Linked DNA regions of Homo sapiens: region 1 is linked to region 2. Evidence: fine-mapped expression QTL. Tissue or cell type: monocytes after Pam3CSK4. Region 2 holds a variant in brackets; the other region holds the start of a gene. All regions are shown on one strand. Distances are between the middles of the regions.

Region 1 (2,500 bases), 26 kb before region 2:
CCTCTTTGGAATAGCGTGACTGGCCTCCCCTCATAGTGATTCTCCACACGTCTGCCTACCTGAATTTCTGAAACACAAATGTCACTATTTGGCTTAAAACACTCCCTTTTCTTCCCACTGTCTACAAGGAAAAGTTCAAATCCTAAGTAAGAATCGCATCTCCTGCCACTACGCTCCTAAGTCTATGCTTCAACACTTGTTCATTTACTCTTGATCAGAGACACCGTTTGATTCACCTCGGTGTCTTTGCGCATATTATCTGGCTATTACCTTATTTTCCCCCAATGCCTGGGAAAATGCCAGGGACACACGGGCACTTAAATATTTGTGGAAAAGGCATGGCTTCTTCAGTCATGTTCCCCCCCCCCGCCCCCCTTATTCTGAACCCAAAGCAATGATCAGCGTATGTGTTCAATAAATATTTGCTGGATGAATAAAGGATGCTATTTCCCTTCCCTAGTCACCTACCTGGCAAACTCCTATTCCTTCTTCTAAAAGAAATTTACCTCTCACTCTTGTGGGCTTCCCTACCTTAATATCCCTTCTAGCCCAGCAAACAATGTTCATTAGATTTGTACCTGAAACTTCTATCACAGGGCATATCACACCATACTACAATGGTTTGTGCACATTCGAGATTGGAGAGCTTTATTAAGGGCGGGCTGGCACTGTATCATCGATGGCCATTGGGACAACAAACATTTGGTGAGCATTCTCATATGTCTGTCTTCTCGTTAGCCTGTGAGCTCCCTAGGCAGGGACCATGCCCCATTCATTCCGGTAATGTGGGAGCCTGGCACGGTGTCTGGCTTGGGGCAGACACCGAAATAGATGCTGAGAATTAACATCCAAAGATGTACCGTGCAGGCTGGGAAATTAGCCATTACTGGGGAAAGGCTGTGGCCGGCGGCCCCAACTGCTACATAAGATCAGAGGATGGGCTGGATCAGCGCCTCTCGCACTTATAAATCAATCACCTTAGGATTTTGTTCAAATGTAGATTCCTATTTAAAAGATCTACGGCGGAGACTCCACATTTCTAAGAAGCTCCCGGCTCGTGCCGACGGGGCTGCTCCGCGGACCACTTAGAGAATCCCGTTCAGGGTGGCTCATTTCGCTACCAGAACACCACCATAGCGCGGGAAGCGCGCAGCCTCTTGGGACTTGCAGTCCCTCCAAGCCCTTCATAGCGGCCGGCCGCTTATTCCTGTGCGAGTAAGGAGCGCCCAGGCCAACCCTCCGGCTGCAGGCTGAGGGGCGGGGGAGAGGTACCTGTTTGGGCTCCGTGGGCACGGGCGGCGGCGGGGGCACCGCCTGCACGGGTCCGGCCGGCATGACTGCGACGCTCAGGGCTGCCAGTCCGCCTCGGTGTCGGTGAGCGGTGCCGCCTCAAGACAGCCTCCCCGCTCGGTCAGTACGACGAGCTCGCAAGATGGCGGCGGCCGAGCGAGTTGCGGCCGCGAAGGTACGACTGGCGCACTTCCGGGACCGTCCCCTCGCCGTGACGCGCTTCCCGCCCCTCCCCGCGGGCACCGCGGCGTCCGACGCCGTTGCCAAGGCAGCGGCCTGAGCGCCCGGCTAGGGCTTTTCGGGGATCCCGGTGGCCGCAGGCGCACCGGGGGCAGTTCCGGGAGCCGACCAGACACGAAGGCTGAAGCCGCGACGCCGAAGACAGGTGAGATGTTGTACGTCACCCGCCGGACCCCCGCCGCACTCACCTCGCGGCTCCTTTACTCCACAGGCCAGTACCTCGCTCCCTTCGACCCCGCCTTCCAAGAGCCCAGCTCCCTCCCATTGGTCTCTCATTTAGGAGAGCCCCTGTCCCCTCAGGCTCACCGCCTAAGAGCCCCACTTCCCTACTCCCTTAGTCCCCCCTTTCATTTCAGACCCACATCCTCCAAGCCCCGCTTCCAAATCCTACGCCCTTAATTCGCTTTTCCCACGGAACCTGCCTTTTCTTGCTTCCATCCCCTGCCTTCCGTAGTCCCGCCCTCAAGCCCCACTGGGGGCCTCCCTCTCAAATCAAGGCTGCTGCTTTCTTTGTCTTTCTTTTTTCTTTTTTTCTGAGACAAGGTCTTGCTCTGTCACCCAGGCTGGAGTGCAGTGGCGCGATCTTGACTCTCTGCAACCTCCGCCTCCCGAGTTCAAGCGATTCTCCTGCCTCAGCCTCCCGAGTGGCTGGGACTACAGGCGCCCACCACACCCGGCTAATTTTTTTTTTTTTTTTTTTGGCATTTTTAGTAGAGACGGGGTTTCACCATGCTGGCCAGGCTGGTCTGGAACTCCTGACCTCAAATGATCCGCCCGCCTCGGCTTCCCAAAGTGTTAGGGTTACAGGCGTGAGCCACCGCGCCCGGCCAGTTTTTAAATTTTTTTTTTTGTAGGGACATGGGAGGACGTCTCCCTATGTTGCCCAGGCTGGTCTCAAACTCCTGGGGTCAAGCGATCCTCCCGCCTTGGCCTCCCAAAGTGCTGGGATTACACGCATGAGCCATCACGC
Region 2 (2,755 bases):
CCACCGCTCTAGACAAGCCTGGTGCTGCTAGTGCCACAAGCCATTGCTCTGCTCACAGTGGAGGTGCTCTGGGGGCCCTCACTGGGAAGTGTCTGTGAGCCCCAGCTCCCCTCTCCATCCTGCTCTCTTCTCTCCTCCAGCTGCAGCTGGGCAGTGCCACCTGTTCTAGGAAGCTGTCCCCAAGCTCCAGGCTGAGTGCCTTTATCATGCCCTAGAGGGTGCCGGGGCCACCACCAGCTCTGTGCTTACCCCAGCAGAGTGACAGCATGTCTCTGGCCTATCTGCTCTCCAGACTGGGCCCCCATGAGCCCAGGGCTGGAGCAGCCCACGTTGGCCAACACGTGCTGGGGGCTGTACACCAGGAGACCGGGGCATCACTGCCTGGCAGAGAAGTAACTCAAGAAATGCTTGGGGGCCAGCCGCGGTGGTTCATGCCTATAATCCCAGCACTTTGGGAGGCCGAGGTGGGCGGATCACCTGAGGTTGGGAGTTCGAGACTAGCCTGACCAACATGGAGAAACCCCGTCTCAACTAAAAATACAAAAAATTAGCCTGTGTGTGGTGGTGCATGCCTGTAGTCCCGCTTACTAGGGAGGCTGAGGTAGGAGAATCGCTTGAACCTGGGAGGCGGAGGCTGTGGTGAGCCGAGATTGCGCCATTGCACTCCAGCCTGGGCAACAAGAGCGAAACTCTGTCTCAAAAAAAAAAAAAAAAAGCTTGTGGACAGAATACCCTTGAATGCCCTTGATGCCAAGTGTTGGGTATTGGAAATCCAGAGATGATAAAACACAGCCCTGGCTGTCAGGAGACAAAGTGACACTCCCCTGAGCCCCATGCCAGGACTAAGTGGCCATTATGGCATAAGCTCTCCAGGGCAGAGCCTGCTGTAGAGCTCCATGCCTCAGAGCAGCCAGCTGGGTGGGCTGAAAGTGTGGCCGGCCTGAAGCTCCGCTGCAGGCCAAAGACCCAGCCTCCCCAGGCTCACTGCATCCTGGGGAGCCCTATGTGCCCCAGGTTCAGTGCATCTTGGGGAACACACCTTGCAGAGCCCCAGGTGAGGATGGAGGGCAGGATGGGAGCTTGCCATCAGAGCAGTAAGGACTGTTCATTAGCTGGGCATGGTGGTTCATCACGCCTGTAATCCCAGCACTTTGGGAGGCCGAGGTGGGCCGAATGCCTAAGCTCAGGAGTTCGAGACCAGCCTGGGCAACATAGTGAAACCCCATCTCTACAAAAAATACAAAAATTAGCTAGACATGGTGGCACGTGCCTGTAGTCCCAGCTACTTGGGGGACTGAGGTGGCAGGGTCACTTGAGCCCAGGAGGTCGAGGCTGCAGTGAGCCAAGATCGTGCCACTGCTGTTCATCAGACCTTCCTGATACATGAGTGTTGCTGCTCTGGACTCCCAGAGGCTGGAGGCACAGTGACTGGGCCCTGGGGTCAGGACTGAGAGCCCGATGCCCATCAGGCCAGCCACTGAGATGCCTCCTCCAGCCACCCTTCAGACACTTTAGTGGCCATGGCCACCCAATACTTGGGTTGGGACCACCTTGACCCCAGCCTGCAGCCTGGCCAAGGCTGCTCAGGTCTGCCCTCTTGAGCAGCCAGACCCACCTGCAGACTGC[G/A]CTCAGCCCCACCCCAAGCCTCTCACCAATGCCTGCCCTGTCCAGAGGCCTGTGTGGGCCACCCATGACAGGGATACACAGAGTACCGTCCCTGTTTGCAAATGAGGAACATGAGGCCAGAGAGGTGAAACTCCCAGCTGAGACCAGCCAGCTAAGGTTTCCAAGCCAGGATTTGATCCCAAGATTGCCCCACTTGAAGCTGCCCTGCACAGCCCACGGTGGCCAACACCTGCTGGAGGCTGTACACCAGGAGACCGGGACGTGACTGCCCAGCAGAGTAGGGACTCAAGAAATGCTTGTGGACAGAATACCCTTGAATGCCCTGATGCCAAGCGCTGGAAATCCAGAGACGATAAAACACAGTCCTGGCTGTCAGGAGACAAAGTGACGCGCCTCATCACATGCAGGATGGGCTGTCCCAAGAAGCCCATGGACGGCCTGACCACGCCTTGTTGTGATACAAAAGAGAGAGAGAGGGAGGGGACTTCAAGCTGGGGTGGGAGGGAGGCTTTCCAAAGAAACGTGGCAGGATGAGTTGTGAAGGTTCTAGCTAGACTAGGACGTGTGGACACAGAAAAGGTGTCCACGTCTACAGCCAGGTGTAGACAAGGCCCAGTGGCAGAAGGCCTGGGCATATGCAGTCATTGGTACAGGGTGGCCAGAGCATAGGAAAAAGGACTAGAAAAATAGAGTGAGTGAGTGATGCAGAGAGCTGGGAAAGCCACGCAGAGGGGTCTGAATTTTACAGGCAGTGGAATAAGGCTTCCCAATGCCTGCAGAACATGAGGACGGCAGCTAACACTGACTACATGTGACCTGGCCCAGGCGCCCCAACTGAGCGCCCACCTACACCATGTCTCTGAACACTCACAGCACTCCTGTGGGGTGGGAAAGGCCGTCCTTGTCACTAAGGTGGGGAGAAGCCACAGGATTTTCAATACAAAGCCATGTATATGGCCCCACGAGCCTCCTTTCCCTAGGCCCCATGTAATCTGCTAGCACCCACCTGCTCCTGGGCACGACTGCCTCCAAGGCAGACCAAGTCCTGCCATCCTCCATAGCCATCCTTGGAGAGGCCACAGGTGGTCCACAAGGTCAACTTCCACTCGATATTGGCAGACAGGGACTC

Direction of the effects. Positions count from the first base shown, and alleles are read on the strand shown. Sizes are in standard deviations (SD) of each study's normalised expression.
For the expression in monocytes after Pam3CSK4 of the gene that starts at base 1,550 in region 1, A is the high allele of the variant in region 2 and G is the other (moderate effect, 0.71 SD a copy in Quach 2016).

What was found. PIP is the estimated chance that this variant, and not a neighbour inherited with it, causes the effect.
Region 1: it holds the start of CCDC157, and the variant in region 2 is fine-mapped to the expression of CCDC157 in monocytes after Pam3CSK4 (Quach 2016, PIP 0.95).

Annotation. Positions count from the first base shown.
Region 1 is chr22:30,355,458-30,357,957 of GRCh38, forward strand. CCDC157 (coiled-coil domain containing 157) reads left to right here and starts at 1,550. Exons shown (of 12, transcript NM_001017437.5): 1 at 1,550-1,675. SF3A1 (splicing factor 3a subunit 1) reads right to left here and starts at 1,437. Exons shown (of 16, transcript NM_005877.6): 1 at 1,273-1,437. The coding sequence starts at 1,335. RefSeq lists a silencer at 1,134-1,383 and an enhancer at 2,319-2,500.
Region 2 is chr22:30,381,707-30,384,461 of GRCh38, forward strand. RNF215 (ring finger protein 215) reads right to left here. Exons shown (of 9, transcript NM_001017981.2): 5 at 2,633-2,755. Among named protein-coding and RNA genes, the nearest start is that of RNF215, 4.3 kb to the right of the region's middle. The variant G/A (reference allele first, on the strand shown) is at 1,627.